2 linked regions of the Homo sapiens genome follow. The protein of the gene in region 1 interacts with the protein of each later gene in a biochemical or structural test. Each region holds a gene or a part of one and is shown on either strand. Other genes may lie near its edges.

The links. Proteins that work in one complex are often made in the same cells at the same time.
Region 2: the proteins of ERG (region 1) and ELAVL1 form a complex in vitro, tested with the Homo sapiens proteins (one large-scale study listed by BioGRID).

Annotation. Positions count from the first base shown.
Region 1 is NC_000021.9:38,400,751-38,405,045, forward strand, and holds part of ERG (transcriptional regulator ERG), read right to left. Parts: intron 2,960-4,295; coding exon 2,756-2,959; intron 1,888-2,755; coding exon 1,807-1,887; intron 1-1,806. UniProt on the Homo sapiens protein: Transcriptional regulator. May participate in transcriptional regulation through the recruitment of SETDB1 histone methyltransferase and subsequent modification of local chromatin structure.
Region 2 is NC_000019.10:8,002,200-8,006,972, reverse strand, and holds the start of ELAVL1 (ELAV-like protein 1), read left to right. Parts: upstream 1-1,331; 5' UTR 1,332-1,478; intron 1,479-4,768; exon of another isoform or gene 4,769-4,773. UniProt on the Homo sapiens protein: RNA-binding protein that binds to the 3'-UTR region of mRNAs and increases their stability.

The sequences.
Region 1 (4,295 bases):
CCTCCTCAAACCTGCCTTAACAGAGCTCCGGAGAAACAGACAGGTGCACCTGTCAGATTCTCAAGATGGAAGTGAAACTTGGAGCCTTGGTGTACTCCTGTGCCCCGTTTGCTATAAAGCGTTTTGTGTTTTGATTTTATAACTTCTTGATGAAGCCCTATCTGTGTCCCCCTCAATCCCACTTCCCACTGGGCAATCTCGTTTTATTAAAAAATTATATGGTACATGTTTTATTTTTCAACTTGTATAAAAACCCATAATATATTTTACAGAGCTTTTGGAAAGTAGTATCAAGCAATTATAAGTATTTAGCCTAAGAGTATATGGATTTTATTAATAATTAATCCACATCTCTATTCAAATGCATTTTCCCTCTCTCTCTTTTGACCAAAACTCATGCTGTTAGCTGAGAAAATTCCCTTTTCATAGTTCAGTCCATTTGGAATTTGTTGTCTTGTTCATTGGTTTCTTCCGTGTTTAACAATAGCAAAATTTAATATATTTGGAGCTTTTTTGAAACTTTCACTCAATGGTTAAAGAACTCATAAATAAATGTGAAATTATCAGAAAATGTGCATAGCTCAAAGGTGTTTCCTAAGAAGGGGAAGTAACTTCCTCTAAGTTATCTGTTATTTCTGGCCACAAGGTCACTAATAGGCTGATGTGTGCAACCAAAATTATTGAAAAAGTGTACTACCAACTCGAAGCAGGTTTTTTAAAACTTCAGATTAAAAAGACAATGTGTTGAATATAGAAGACCATGATAAATGAGCAATTTCATTGTAATACTCAAACCGGGACTCACTCACATTTTATATTTTAAAATAAAATGGTAAATATTGGGAAAATTGCGTATTTCTATGTGAGGGCTGATCGTGAGTTAACTGGCTGACTTGCAAGGCTTTCTGGCACTTCCCGTCTCCCTCCCTAGCCCGAGTGATTGTGGAGGGTCCCTGCAGCTAACAGAGTGGGGTGAGCAGCCGGTGGCCATGCTTCCGGAACTCTCTCCATCAGGAAGGAGCAGATGGATGTGAACCAGGAACACATTCATCCACAGAAAACCCAGCCTCTGCTGTGAGCGGGGGGCGAGGGAGGAAGGTTAGCCAGGATGAGGCACGGTGTTAAACCCTACTTAGGCTCAGGCAAAATAAATACATAACTAAGTCAAATGTAGAGGCAACGGTTAGAGATAGAAAACAGGCATTTGGTTAGTGACTAATTTCATATTCTCCAAAATTATAGCAGAGGTTCCCTCTGAACAAAAGCTCTCAAAATGTTACAGAAATTCCCTCCTGCCTTTTGCAAACATACAAAGTCTGTAGGAAAACAAATCAAATAGCCTAAAAGTTTATTGGAAAGGAAAAAGAAAATTCCAACTTATCCTAGCAAATATTTCTTTAAGAATAAAAATGGAAAAAATTAAAGGAGGTTGCTAAGGGCCCTTTTATATCGAACATGCTTTTAGTGTCTACAGAGTCAGCACAGCGAATATATTGGGACCAACAGAAGAAGACTGTAATCCGGCAAATGTGAGCTAAGTTATGGCTAAAGGCAAATTCTGCACGTCTCCTGGTTAAAAAGGAACCCTTTGATAATCAAAGTGGGGTGCTTGGGAAGCGCTCAGAAAACCAAAGGGCTTCACCTTCCTTTAGGCTGTGGTACATTCCTAAGTATCCGAAAGTATTCTGAATCATCTACCTGCGTTCTGTCTTCCTGGCACGCGCTGACTGGTTTCCCATGAAAGCATGCAACCTGTACGTAAGACCCTACGCTCTTGCTGGGAGGCAGGGGCGGGGCCAGCATTACCTGTGTTTCTAGCATGCATTAACCGTGGAGAGTTTTGTAAGGCTTTATCAACATCATCTGAAGTCAAATGTGGAAGAGGAGCTACAAAACAAAACAAAAAGCGACATCAAAATGAAAAAAAAAAGAGAGAGAGAGAAAGAGAATTACCTTTCTTACAAAAAAAAAAAAAAAAAAAGAAAGAAAAAGAAAGAAAGAAAACCGTTCCCCCACTCCCACACTAACATCATGGGAAGCTTATAACTATTTCCAGCAACCTGCTACTTGTTAGCATGTTAAAACCTACATGGGGGCCCGTCTTTAATTCAGGGAAGAAGTGGTTGGGATGCCAGGCAAAGCAATGGAGGAGAATTTATCCACCTCACTGTCTGTCACACTACTTCCTTCTCACCATGCTGGACGTTGTAGAAATTAAAGCATGCAGCAAACATTCTGGATTCATGCCAACATGCCATCCCTTTCTGTCAGGTTAAGCCGAATCACATGATACAAAGTGAAAACTTCCCTTGTTCTGTGCTCAGGTTAGAATATAAAGTGGGGCTTCATGTAGCTTTAGGGAGAATAATCCCCCTAATTCCTACGAAAGAGAAGCCTTAATGATTCTATTTCGATTCGGGGTATCATGGAGACTTAACTAATGTGTGACCAGTTAACGCTTCCTTTCCCCTTTGACATTCCATCTTCTTGGTCGCAGGACCCTGGAGGAGGCAGCTGAGTGTTGAAGTGAATTTTGGCTTCTCCTGAGAGCGCTGACTACTTCTCATCAGGTGATGTGGCCAGGGTGTTGCTCCCCTAAGTCATCACATACCAAGCATGTGGCTCCCTCGGATCCCCAGTGGGAACTGGGCGAGGGCAGGAGGATGCTGTCGACACACCTGGTTGAACCCTCTGAAGCTCAGGTCATAAGAACCATAGCCACAGCCATCTATCCTTGGAGGAAGGGGGAGCTTACTCTCTCTGAGGTAGTGGAGATGTGAGAGAAGGATGTCGGCGTTGTAGCTGGGGGTGAGCCTCTGGAAGTCGTCCTTGGTCATCTTGCACAGTTCCTTCCCATCGATGTTCTGGAATAACAAGATGTTGACGTCTGGAAGGCCATATTCTTTCACCGCCCACTCCAGCCACTGCCGCACATGGTCTGTACTCCATAGCGTAGGATCTGAAAGGGGTGGGAACACATTCAGTCAATTCCTGAAGCCAGGGATCTTCATCTTGGGGTAGATCCCCATCCACGTGGGATTTCTGACCAGCTGCCTTCCACAAGCACAGCCTCCAGCCAGCCTCCCTGGCTACCCAGGAGAACATTTTGGGGGAAAGACAAAAGCTGCCTCACATCCATAGATCATTGTCTTTAAAGTGAATAGTTCTGGAATCTTGGGATTATTCACATCACATGCCCTTGTTTTTGCTCAATCTAAAGTTTCCTGTAGGCATAAGATTTTAAAAATTCTTTTTTCTCATTTATGTTCAATTTTATTTATTTATTTTAAAATGAGTAAGAATAAGAGGAAACTTCTTTTCCTTAGAAAACTACTGGTATATTTATATATATTTATATGGAAATAAGAGTAAGCCACACATATCAGGAAGGTGCTAATTACAGATCACAACAACAACAAAAATAATAATAACAGTATTTATGCAAAATACTGAAAAATACTGACCACAGAATCGGAAATGAAATATAGATACACCAAGACTCTAGCCCCTCCTATGAGCCAGCGTTCCTCATAGAGAGCTGTCAGTTCCAGACTTTTCCTGCAGGGTGTTTGGTTTTGCAATTAACCAGCACCTGCAGGAGTGGGGTTGGTGAGTGGTTTTTGCATTCCACAGCTGGCCATGGCGAGCACAAACACCCCACAGGATGCAGGCCACGTCGTCACACTCCAGTGCTACCTATGGGACAGGGAGAGCAGGGCCCGGGGGAGAAGGAGCAGGTGATCTCCAACAGAAACGCCAGCCGGGATGTCCTGTGGTAAACACCCTCAGTGGTAGGGTCTTCAGAGTGTGGTAAATGGGGCGGCTGCTCCCTTGGGCCCCGAGCCCTGAGAGACACATGGGCAGGGAGTTGGAGCCCTGAGTTCTAATCTCACCATTTCTCCACTTTCTGGACCTTGCTGTGGGCAGCTATTTCTCCTTTCTGTGTCTGTCCCACCTGTAAACTAAGAGCACTGATCTCAGTTCCCGGGACAAGCCCTTAGGGGTCAGGCATGCCAGGATGTTCCAGTCCTCTTGAATGAAAGTCAGGTGTGGGAGTCACATTTTAGCTAATACTTTCAGATCCTTGTTTGTTTGGTCCCACTAATATTTTAGGCTACTCAAGAATGGAGCATGTAGTATGCTGCTGCAATACATTTTTAGGTTTGCAGAGGTAAACCGTAATAATAGTGAGAAACAGCCAGCCAGTCATACACCCAGAGTTCTCTTCCTCTCCCTCCTTCCCTCTTCCTTCCTTCGCTTCTCCCTCCCTTTCTTCCCTTCAGCTACATAGAAGA
Region 2 (4,773 bases), on another chromosome or scaffold:
AAGCTACTCAGGAATCTGAAGCCGGAGGATTGATTGCCTGAGCTGGGGAAGTTGAGGCTGCAGTTAGCTGTGATCATACCACCGCACTCCAAATTGGGTGACAGAGTGAGATCCTGTCTCAAAAAAAAAAAAAAAAAAAGAAAAACAAAATTGTAGGCCAGGCGCAGTGGCTCAAGCCTGTAATCCCAGCACTTTGGGAGGCTGAGGCGGGCAGATCACGAGGTCAAGAGATACAGATCATCATGGCCAACACGGTGAAACCCCGTCTCTACTAAAAATACAAAAATTAGCTGGTTGTGGTGGCGCAGCGCCTGTAGGCCCAACTACTTAGGAGGCTGAGGCAGGAGAATCGCTTGAACCTGGGAAGCGGAGGTTGCAGTGAGCGGAGATCACGCCACTGCACTCCAGCCTGGCGACAGAGCGAGTCTCCGTCTCAAATAAATAAATAAATAAATAAAAATAAAAAGACTATTATTTTCAGATCATAAAAAAAAAAAAGAAAAAATTAGGCAGAGTGCAGGCATGCCTGTAATCCCAGCTCTTTGGGAGGCGGAGGCAGGAGAATCGCTTGAGTCCAGGAGTTCGAGACCAGCCTGGGCAACAGAACCAGAGCCCATCTTTACATAAAAAAAAATTAAACATGTAGCTTGCATGTATTTCTACTAGGGCATTCTAGGCCAGCGCTGGTTTAGAATGTTAGCCCAATAAGACCAGGTATTTTTTTTCTGCTCACTGCCCATACAGTGATTGACACACAGTAGGCGCTCAATGACATTTTAATGAATGAATGAGATGCTGAGCCTTCGGGAACTGGCTTGCTCAAAGAGCCAGCACCGATGAAGCGCTGACCACGTTCCATGCCCCGCCTCCTCAGCGCACCAGAGAAGGAAACTGAGGCCCGGCAAGGTGACGTCAGCTCCTGCCCAACGGCACGTAGTGCGGAAACGTCGGGGCCGGGATTCGAACCCAGGTTCTGTACCCGTAACCCCGGCGCGCTGACCTTTCCTACCTTACCGGGCGGCGGCAGGACAGACAGGTGCGGGACACACGGCGAGCGCTCAACCAGAGGCGCCGCTCCTCAGCCACCGCCTTCCGTCAGCCTCCGAGGGCCGGAACCCAGTTCGCCCCCTCCGCGGCCATCGCTGGCTGCCCGCGTCTCCGCCGGCCGCGGAGCACTTCGCAGGCGGCGCCGACCGGAAGTCCCGCCTCTCCCGCGCGCCCCGGAGCGCCGCGACAGCTACGCCGGCCAATGAGCAGCGCGCCGTGGCGGACGTCGGCCAATGGGCTCGCGCGCGGGGGGGGCGTGTCCGGGCCGCGGGCCGGAGCGGGTCGTGCGCGCTGAGGAGGAGCCGCTGCCGCCGTCGCCGTCGCCGCCACCGCCGCCACCGCTACCGAGGCCGAGCGGAGCCGTTAGCGCCGCGCCGCCGCCGCCTCCCGCCCGCCCCGGAGCAGCCCCGGGCCCGCCCGCCCGCATCCAGGTGAGGCGGTGGGGGGCCTTCGGCGGCGCCCGACGGGGTAGGCCGCGGCAGGCCTGAGCTCGCCTGGCCTGGCCGCGGGGCGCCCGCGGGCCTGCACCGGCCGAGGCCCAGGCCGCGCCGGACCGGGGGAGGGGACGCGCGCTGGGGCCGCGGCGGGCGGGTCGGGGCGGGCCGGTGTGGGCGCCGGCTACAGGCCCCGGGGCCGGATTCCTCTGGCGCCTCGAGGGACGGGCGAGGGGGATACGGCGTGGGCATGCGCCGGGGGGCCGGGCTGCACGGCCGGGGGCCCCGGTCGCCTTGGAAGCCCGGGCTCCGGGGGCGGGAGAGTGGGGCCAGCTACGGGGGAGCGCCGGGAACGCTTTGAGCGCGCAGAGGTCACGGCCCACGGGCTTGCTCCCCCGGGAAATCCCACAGATTCTTTTGTGGTCGTTGTCAGAGCACCGCGGCCGGTGCGAGGTCCTTTGAGAAGTGTGCAAACCCTTCAGTAGATACACGGGAGTCCTGGGGGAAAAAAAAAATCTAAACTGCATCTTTTTTTGAGCGCCATCTCTAACAAAGCTGTTTGTGGGGCGTGGGACGTTAGGATTTGTAAAATATGTGTGTGTGCCTGTTGGAAACACAAGCTGCACACAGTTGAACAATGGGGGATGGATGCCCTTCCTTCCTTTTCCGGTGCTCTGGGCTGCGGGGCTTGTTAAAATGGGTTTTGGTCCCTACTGTGTGCAGGGCAGGTGGAGAAGAACTTCTGCACAACTTCTGCATGGGCTTCCCGTGGTGGGACTGAGCCCCCTTGCTAGAAAGTGTTCATCTAAGATCCGGATGGCCAGAAATGGGAAGATGAGGAGAATGATCTGTCTAGAGCAGGGTTTCTCGACGTTGGCCCTACTGATGTTTGGGGTCAGATAGTTTTTGGTTGTGGTGGTAGTGGGGGCTTCCCTGTGCAATGTAGGAAGTTGAGCCGTATTCCTGGCCTCTACCCACTAGATGCCAGCAGTATCCCCATGCTCCAAGTCGTGAGGATCAAAAGTATCTCCAAACATTGCCAGATGGCTCGGGTTGCGGGGGAGGGGTCTCTTCCACTCTCACACGCACAGGTGAGAACCATTACTGAACTAAATGCTCTTCCTCCAAAAGTTCTAATGCCCTGGGAGATGCTCCCAAGACCTCGAACAAGCTTGACTCTGTTGAGCCTTAGTTTTCTTATCTATAAAATGGGAAGGACAAAAGTGTGGTGCAAATTGAAGAGGGTGGAAATCCCGTTGCGTTGTGCGTGGTCTGTGCCTGGTAGGCACTGAATAAATGATGTTGTACATAGCCACCAGTATTTATTGAGGATTTACTATGTGCTTGACACTTTGTGGACGTTTGTCTGCAGTCCTTGAGGCAGGTGATGTTATAATTTCCATTAATTTCCATTTTAGAGATGAAGAAACTGAGGCTTAGATGGGTCACTTGATGTGACCAGTCTCATGCACTAAAGTGGCTGCGCCAGGGTTTGAACTCGGGCCCTCTGATTCAAAACCCTTACTCTTAACCACTCGATTGTACTGCTCCTATAATCACAAGGCTCCAGGGCACTCCAGTTGTCATCGAATATTTTCTGTGTGCAAAGTTCTGTGCTGGGATCTATTATCAAATTCTGCAACTTCGAGGCCCACAAAGAGGTTGAGATACACGAACGTCTCAAATGTGGAAGGAAATAATACTGTTTATGTTGATGCATTGGTTTTGAGCAGACAGAGTTTCAGTCTGGATGTGTTGAGTCTGAGATCATGGTGCTATTTCTTTTTTTTTTTTTTTTTTGAGACGGAGTCTCACTCTGCCGCCCAGGCTGGAGTGCAGTGGTGCGATCTCGGCTCACTGCAAGCTCCGCCTCCCGGGTTCACGCCATTCTTCTGCCTCAGCCTCCCGAGTAGCTGGGACTACAGGCGCCGGCTACCACGCCCGACTAATTTTTTGTACTTTTAGTAGAGACGGGGTTTCACCGTGTTAGCCAGGATGGTCTCGATCTCCTGACCTTGTGATCCGCCCGCCTCGGCCTCCCAAAGTGCTGGGATTACAGGCGTGAGCCACCGCGCCCGGACCATGGTGCTATTTCTTTTTTTTTTTTTTTCTTTTTCTTTTTTTTTTTTTTTTTTTGAGACAGTTTCACCCTTGTTGCCCAGGCTGGAGTGCAGTTGTGCCATCTCAGCTCACTGCAACCTCAGCCTCCCAAGTAGCTGGGATTACAGGCAGCCGCCACCACGTCCAGCTAATTTTTTGCATTTTTAGTAGAGGTGGGATTTCGCCTTGTTGAGCAGGCTGGTCTCGAACTCCTGACCTCAGGTGATCCACCCGCCTTGGCCTCCTAAAGTCCTGGGATTACAGGTGTGAGCCACCGCGCCCAGCCCATGGTGCTATTTCAAGTAAAAGAAATGAGAGAATTATGAAAAAACTTTATGAAAATTTCTTGCCTCTCTCACTCTCCGCTTCCCATCTCTTCCCTCTTTCCACACTCCAGCAGGAGTTCTGTTCTGTAAATGCACATCTAATTGTATCCCTTCTGATTTAAAATCTTTGTGCAGAAAAAAGACACGTTTTCTTGACCTCTCTGGTGGCTTAAAAGATAAAGCTAGAAGCCCTTAGTTTGGAGTGCCAGTTCCTTCACACCCTAACCCTCCCCGCCCCTGCACGTAGACCCCAAACTCTAACCCTCCCTGCCTGTTGCAGCCTCCACCTGGAGACAGATCTCTTCCACCTGGAGATCCTTTGCTTATGCTCCATGGCTCAGCCCAGAGCTCACTGGCCGTTTGAAGCCTCGTCTGACTGCCACTCTTCCTCCACCCGCACCGGAATCAACTGTTCCCTCCTTAGTGTTCCCATCCCATTCAGTTTATTGAATCGAATTCAAGGCTGAATGGCGAGAGAAGCGCAGCGCCCGGCTGGCGCCCCTAGGTGGCAGTAGCGAGGCGGTGCGGCCGACCCGAGCTGTGGGTCAGGGGAAGACCAACGGAAGCCAGCCTGTGGGAGGGAAGTGAGGCTCGCTCCCTCCTCTGAACGACTCTCCCTGCTCCGCTGCTGTGTCCTGGGCCCCCGCTAGGCTCTGGAGAGTGTGCATGATGTGTGTAGGTCATCTCAGCCCACTCTGATGAGTGCTGTGAGAATTATGCCCTGGCTGATGTGGAAGCCCAGAAAAGGGACCTGGGTGGGCACAGGAGAGCCCAGAATGCTTCCTGGAGGAGAGGAGGCAGTAGCGGTGGGGAGGAGCTAACCAGGCAAAGACAATAGGGTGGGGCTTTTTAGGATACAGCCAAGC